Linked DNA regions of Homo sapiens. The protein of the gene in region 1 interacts with the protein of each later gene in a pairwise test. Each region holds a gene or a part of one and is shown in the gene's direction. Other genes may lie near its edges.

The links.
Region 2: the proteins of KRT3 (region 1) and WASHC1 interact in a two-hybrid assay, tested with the Homo sapiens proteins (one large-scale study listed by BioGRID).

What each region holds. Positions count from the first base shown.
Region 1 is NC_000012.12:52,789,185-52,793,117, reverse strand, and holds the end of KRT3 (keratin, type II cytoskeletal 3), read left to right. Parts: intron 1-311; coding exon 312-407; intron 408-714; coding exon 715-879; intron 880-1,301; coding exon 1,302-1,427; intron 1,428-1,691; coding exon 1,692-1,912; intron 1,913-2,245; coding exon 2,246-2,280; intron 2,281-2,759; coding exon 2,760-3,076; 3' UTR 3,077-3,433; downstream 3,434-3,933.
Region 2 is NC_000009.12:14,013-16,734, reverse strand, and holds the end of WASHC1 (WASH complex subunit 1), read left to right. Parts: coding exon 1-17; intron 18-673; coding exon 674-826; intron 827-1,585; coding exon 1,586-1,654; intron 1,655-1,794; coding exon 1,795-1,928; 3' UTR 1,929-2,222; downstream 2,223-2,722. UniProt on the Homo sapiens protein: Acts as a component of the WASH core complex that functions as a nucleation-promoting factor (NPF) at the surface of endosomes, where it recruits and activates the Arp2/3 complex to induce actin polymerization, playing a key role in the fission of tubules that serve as transport intermediates during endosome sorting.

The sequences.
Region 1 (3,933 bases):
CTGGCTGGGTTGGGGGAATCTCCTCACTCCACTGCCACAGAGCTGCCAAGTTCAGGCCTTTGGAGCAATAAACAGAAGTCAGGTGCACCTTAGTCTGGAAGATCCCTAAAAGAGTTAGTTCATCAGTCTTTAGTTTTTTAGTAGGATTAAACTTAGACCATCCTAATGAGATACAAATTGCCCGTTCAAGTGGAGACTGGTCTTAGACAAGGACCATCACTGCACCAGTCCCCTCTGCTCTTTCTTGCTGCAGTTGTGGTTTGCTGTTTGTTCATTGGGAGAATAAGGCCTTTATCTTCCTCTTTTCTCAGGATGTGGACAGTGCCTATATGAACAAGGTGGAGCTTCAGGCCAAAGTGGATGCCTTGATAGATGAGATCGACTTCTTAAGGACCCTCTACGACGCTGTAAGGATGTTACCTACTAAGAAGGGACAGAGGGAGAGTGAGGTGTTTCCAGATTTGAGGCTGGTGCATTTTGGTATATAGGCCCCAGAAGACATCTGGAATGAGCCTGGAGATGAGGACCCTTGGAAGGGATTCCACAGGATAAGCTGCAGACATGGGGTTCTCTGAGTGGCTGCGGACAGGGTGTGGCTGATACACATGTGGAGCAAGGAATCAGTGAATGAGACTGTTGATCAAGAGTCTTTCAGGGCCCTGTGTGCTTGTTACAGGGACCCCAAAAGTGAACAAGCTCCCTCTGTGTTGACAGGAGCTATCTCAGATGCAGAGCCACATCAGTGACACATCTGTGGTGCTGTCCATGGACAATAATCGCTCCCTGGACCTGGACAGCATCATTGCTGAAGTTCGTGCACAGTATGAGGATATCGCTCAGAGAAGCAAGGCCGAAGCTGAGGCCCTGTACCAGACCAAGGTGGGTGCTAGTCACCTCTTACGGGATCCACTGGAGGTTTCAGAGAGGCCATGGCCTATTGGACAGCTGGGTAGTGAGTTCCCAGTGGTCACTGGGTGAATGCCTTTTGGTTTTACCCTCTGAAGTCATCCTTCTAATGGTGGTTCAGTTGCAGAAAGTCTTGCCCCTGGGGGAGATGGTTGCCTGCTATGTGGGACTGACTCCAACTTGCTCAGGAACTACAGGGTAGGAAAATCTTCTACCACAACAACCCAGATGTTCTCTTTCCTGCTGCCTTGGGGGTTTCCCTGCTGAAACACAATGCAGTATCATTTTAGCAAATGCCTTACTGAGCTTCTGAAGGTTTGGTGGGTGATGTTGGAGGTGTAGAAACAAGTCAAGCAAAGCTGCAGGAATACCCCATCTTCCCTTCTGTTCTGCAGTTGGGGGAGCTGCAGACCACGGCTGGCAGGCATGGGGATGACCTAAGAAATACCAAGAGCGAGATCATAGAGCTCAACAGAATGATCCAGAGGCTGCGGGCAGAGATCGAGGGTGTCAAGAAGCAGGTGGGATGGTCATGGATGCTGGCACCTGGGATGATTGCTGAGGGGCAGGGGCTAGGATCTCAGGACTCCTCCCCTGGAATAGACGTCTGGAGGTCATCTCAGGCTGGCTGACCCACAGGGCAGTATCTCCACAAATGGAGACAAGATGGAGGCACTAGGGGAGGAGGAATGTTCCCTGACTTTAAGATGGGATAATCCATTGCATGTCAGGAAGGGCCTGGGGCCCTCTTACTGAGCTCATTCCTCCTACCTCCCTTGCCCCAGAATGCCAACCTGCAGACGGCCATTGCCGAGGCCGAGCAGCATGGAGAGATGGCCCTCAAGGATGCCAATGCCAAGCTCCAAGAGCTGCAGGCTGCTCTACAGCAGGCGAAGGATGACCTGGCGCGGCTGCTACGTGACTACCAGGAGCTGATGAATGTCAAGCTGGCCCTGGACGTGGAGATCGCCACCTACCGCAAGCTGCTGGAGGGCGAGGAGTACAGGTGAGCCTCCAGTCCCGTCTTCCCACACCCCCTGGCTCAAGTCATAGGCCAAGGGCCAGATAAGTGACCAAGTAACTGGGGATGGAGCCCTGCTGTATAAAGAGAGGCCTTGTGGTGAAGCATTTGCCTCTACCAGCCCACTCCCTCCCAGGGCACGTATGCAACCAGTGCCCACAGGCTCTCCTTGCTACAGCCCAAAGAGGGGTGGAGAAAGCTTACCTGATTTGCCAGGCTTCTCTGTTCAGCTCTGGTTGCTATTCATGCCCTTGGTCCGTGGACTTGTTGGTGATGTGCTTTGTGACGGGGCCCACTTTCTCTTGCTTTCTCAAACAGGATGTCTGGAGAGTGTCCGAGTGCTGTCAGCATCTGTAAGTACCGAAAGTAGCTAAGAAAATGAGAGTTAATTCTGAAATATCTGCACTAATCCAGGGTAGTAGCAACTAATTTAAACATATTTTTACGGAAGTTGGAGGGGTTTTCTGGGAGAGGAGAGGGAAGTGATTGGCTTTTGTAATTGTTCTGGGTTCAGGGCACTTTTAATAGGCTTCGACGGCCAATGTGGAATATCCAACAGGGGGCCTCTTGATAGGAGGATAAATTCAGACGCTAGATCCCCTCCAAGGGGGTCATCAAGACTGTACTGTGGGAGGAACCACTGGCTAATTCATAATGGCTTAACGGCAGGGGAGTGAGTAGCTAGTGGCCTTGGAACGGCTCGTGGTGAACATCCTGTGCAAAGCTGCCTTGATCAGCTCTGGATAGTCGTGGGCCCGGTGGATCATTGACAATAACATAGCAGCTGGCCTGGGCGCCGTCGCTGATCGCTGTCCTGTCCTCTCCCCCACAGCCGTGGTCAGCAGCAGCACGACTTCCGCCTCCGCAGGTGGCTATGGAGGAGGTTACGGCGGAGGCATGGGCGGTGGTTTAGGAGGTGGCTTCAGTGCGGGCGGCGGCTCAGGCAGTGGCTTTGGCCGGGGAGGCGGCGGTGGAATCGGCGGTGGATTTGGCGGCGGCAGCAGCGGTTTCAGCGGTGGCAGCGGCTTTGGCTCCATCTCTGGCGCCCGCTATGGAGTCAGTGGCGGGGGCTTCAGCTCGGCCAGCAACCGGGGCGGCAGCATCAAGTTCTCCCAGTCCTCCCAGTCCTCCCAGCGCTACTCCAGATAAAGAGCACGCATCAGCATCGCAGCCACTCCAGCGCCTCCCCTCCGCTCCCCACGCCCCCATATTGGCAACACCCCCAGCGCCACCCCATGCTCCCCAAGAACGCGGCTCTGCGCTGGAAGGCTTGTGGCCTCTTGCTCCTCCTTCCAGATCCCCGGCCAAGCCCAGTCACGAGAATTTCAGGCTCTTCTCTCCGGCTCCAGCCTGTGCCTGTGATTGTCCAGGTGTGGCCTAGGCCGCCACCTTCTGCTGCCCCGGAGTCCCCTCCCTGGGTGGGATGCTCACTACAGCTCTGATGTATATAGCACACAGCCCCCTCCGCCCCTCCGGTCTGTCGCCAATAAAGTGCACTGTGTTTCACTCCGGGCCTCTGAGTATTCGCTCCATGTCCTTCTCCTTAGGGCACTGAGCTCCCTGGTCACCTCCCTGGCCTCCCTGCCTCTGCCTCTCCCATGTGGGCTCTGTGATCCACAGAGCAGCTGGAGAACTCTTCCTCTGAAACAAAGGCAGTTCGTCTTCTCAGTCCATGGTGCGGATCCGGTTGTTCATTATTCTGTGAGCACCGTGGGGAGGGAGAGGTCCTGCTCCCCGACGCTGTTGTACCCTGTGTACCCTTACCGTCCTTAGTGGTGAAGGCTGGCCCATGCAGACATCTGTCTCCTCCCTGTCTTCTCTCATGTGGGGGAACTAAGAGGGCCTTGGGGACAGAGGGTTTCTTCCCTTGGTGTTGATTCTCACTCCAGCTGACATCGTGAAAGCTTTTCCCCCATCAAGGTGCTCCGGGAAAGTGCGGGCTGCTGGAAGCCCAGGGATGGAAATAGGCCCCAGAGCAGCCTATGTCAAAGTCTGACCCAGGAACA
Region 2 (2,722 bases), on another chromosome or scaffold:
CAGCGCATCTCCTTCAGGTGGGAGCAGCTCTTTGAGGCCACCTGATTTCTGGCGTGCTCAGTGCACTCGGGTGGATTTTCTGTGGGTTTGTTAAGTGGTCAGAAATTCTCAATTTTTTGAATAGTTTCCATTTCAAATATCTTGTTCTACTTGGTTCATAAAATAGTGGCTTTCAAACTGTAGAGCTCTGGACTTCTCACTTCTAGGGCAGAGGGAGCCTGAACAAGTGAGGCTCTGGGTTCCTCATTCCTAATTAAACCAATGGAAAGAAGGGGTCTAATAACAAACTACAGCAACACATTTTTCATTTCAGCTTCACTGCTGTATCTCCCAGTGTAACCCTAGCATCCAGAAGTGGCACAAAACCCCTCTGCTGGCTCATGTGTGCAACTGAGACTGTCAGAGCATGGCTAGCTCAGGGGTCCAGCTCTGCAGGGTGAGGGCTAGAGAGGAAGCAGGGAGTATCTGCACACAGGATGCCCGCGCTCAGGTGGTTGCCGAAGTCAGTGCCCGGGCCCCACACAGTCTCCAAAGGTCCGGCCTCCCCAGCGCGGGGCTCCTCGTTTGAGGGGAGGTGACTTCCCTCCCAGCAGGCTCTTGGACACAGTAAGCTTCCCCAGCCCTGCCTGAGCAGCCTTTCCTCCTTGCCCTGTTCCCCACCTCCCGGCTCCAGTCCAGGGAGCTCCCAGGGAAGTGGTCGACCCCTCCGGTGGCTGGGCCACTCTGCTAGAGTCCATCCGCCAAGCTGGGGGCATCGGCAAGGCCAAGCTGCGCAGCATGAAGGAGCGAAAGCTGGAGAAGCAGCAGCAGAAGGAGCAGGAGCAAGGTGAGCGGGCCCTGGAGCCTGCGGTTGGAGGGCCTTGGGCAAGATCGCCTCCTCCCCTCCAGCCCTGAGTCCACCGGGTGCTTTCTGCCCACCCCCTGCTCCTGCCAGCTGGCCCCTGCTTCCCCTAGGGCACATGCTGGAAGCCCTGGGCCGCCACCAGAGGTCCTCAGCCCTCCTGCCTGGGCTATGGCTCCTTCCTGGTTTGGGAGCCATAGTGGAGCTTTCCTCTCTAAGCTCACCCAGCTCAAACTGTGACAGGAGAATCTTCTTCGACTGCCAAGAGCGGTCCAAGGCAATGGTCAGCCACTGCAGCCTCCTGAGATATTTTTAGAGACTGGACCTGAGGCCTCTGGAGGCTACTGATGATGCCTGCTGTGAACGCAGACACTGGTGTGATGCGATGCCTGCGCCTGCAGCGGCAGTGCCCTGGGCACTATGGTTTTGAGCTTGTACCCAGCGCTGCTTTTGCCTTGCTCTGTGACCCCAGGCAAGCTGCCTCACCTCTCTGGGCCAGTTTCCCCATCGTACAGTGGTGCTGCACACCCTGGCCCTGTCCCCGAGGTGGCTGGGAGGTGGCTCCTCAAACAGCCACTTTCTCATCAGTGCCCGGTGCTGGGTCAGGCATCGACTGAGGCTCTGAGCTAACTAGGAAACACAGTGGCCTTGGAGGGCTGGGGAGTGTCATGGGGGTGGGGACAGGGAGCCACCGGTCGCATGTGACTGAACTCTTCACCCCAGTCTGTGGCTTTCCCGTTGCAGTGAGAGCCACGAGCCAAGGTGGGCACTTGATGTCGGATCTCTTCAACAAGCTGGTCATGAGGCGCAAGGGTAGGAGGCAGGGCCGCTGCCCACCCTGGGCCGGCACATTGTAATTCTGTCCTGCCTTTTTCTTCCTGTATTTAAGTCTCCGGGGGCTGGGGGAACCAGGGTTTCCCACCAACCACCCTCACTCAGCCTTTTCCCTCCAGGCATCTCTGGGAAAGGACCTGGGGCTGGTGAGGGGCCCGGAGGAGCCTTTGTCCGCGTGTCAGACTCCATCCCTCCTTTGCCGCCACCGCAGCAGCCACAGGCAGAGGAGGACGAGGACGACTGGGAATCGTAGGGGGCTCCATGACACCTTCCCCCCCAGACCCAGACTTGGGCCGTTGCTCTGACATGGACACAGCCAGGACAAGCTGCTCAGACCTGCTTCCCTGGGAGGGGGTGACGGAACCAGCAGTGTGTGGAGACCAGCTTCAAGGAGCGGAAGGCTGGCTTGAGGCCACACAGCTGGGGCGGGGACTTGTCTGCCTGTACTTCATGGGGGGACGGCTCCACCCAGCCTGCGCCACTGTGTTCTTAAGAGGCTTCCAGAGAAAACGGCACACCAATCAATAAAGAACTGAGCAGAAACCAACAGTGTGCTTTTAATAAAGGATCTCTAGCTGTGCAGGATGCAAACGTCTCGGGGTCAGTGACTGCCTCCTGCCCCTGTTGGTCCCTAGGCAGTGGGGGCAGAAGCTCCCAGCTGACTTGTTTCTCTGGGATGAGAGGGAGGAGAGAAGGGCAGTCAGCAGGGGCAGCTGTTGCAGATGGGAGGAATAGTTTCCCACAAAAAAGGTTTCAGTGACAGACACAGGGTCTCTAAAAATAGTCATGCTGAGAGCCTAATGGCCCTTGGCACAATTGCTGGTGTTGGGGTAGAAGATGTCTTGGAGTTTGCTCAAGTGGTTGAGAGGGAGGGAGGTGCCATCGACTTGGAGGAACTGGCACCAAGCCAGGGAGATAGAAATCCAGGCAAGGCTGTGGGGCAGGTTAGGGAGCAAGGCTGCAGGAGTGACTCAGGAAGAAGGTGGGGGAGGTGACAAGCCCCCAGGCAGGGGCCCTGTGGCCATGGGGATCTTTTTAAATTGAGAC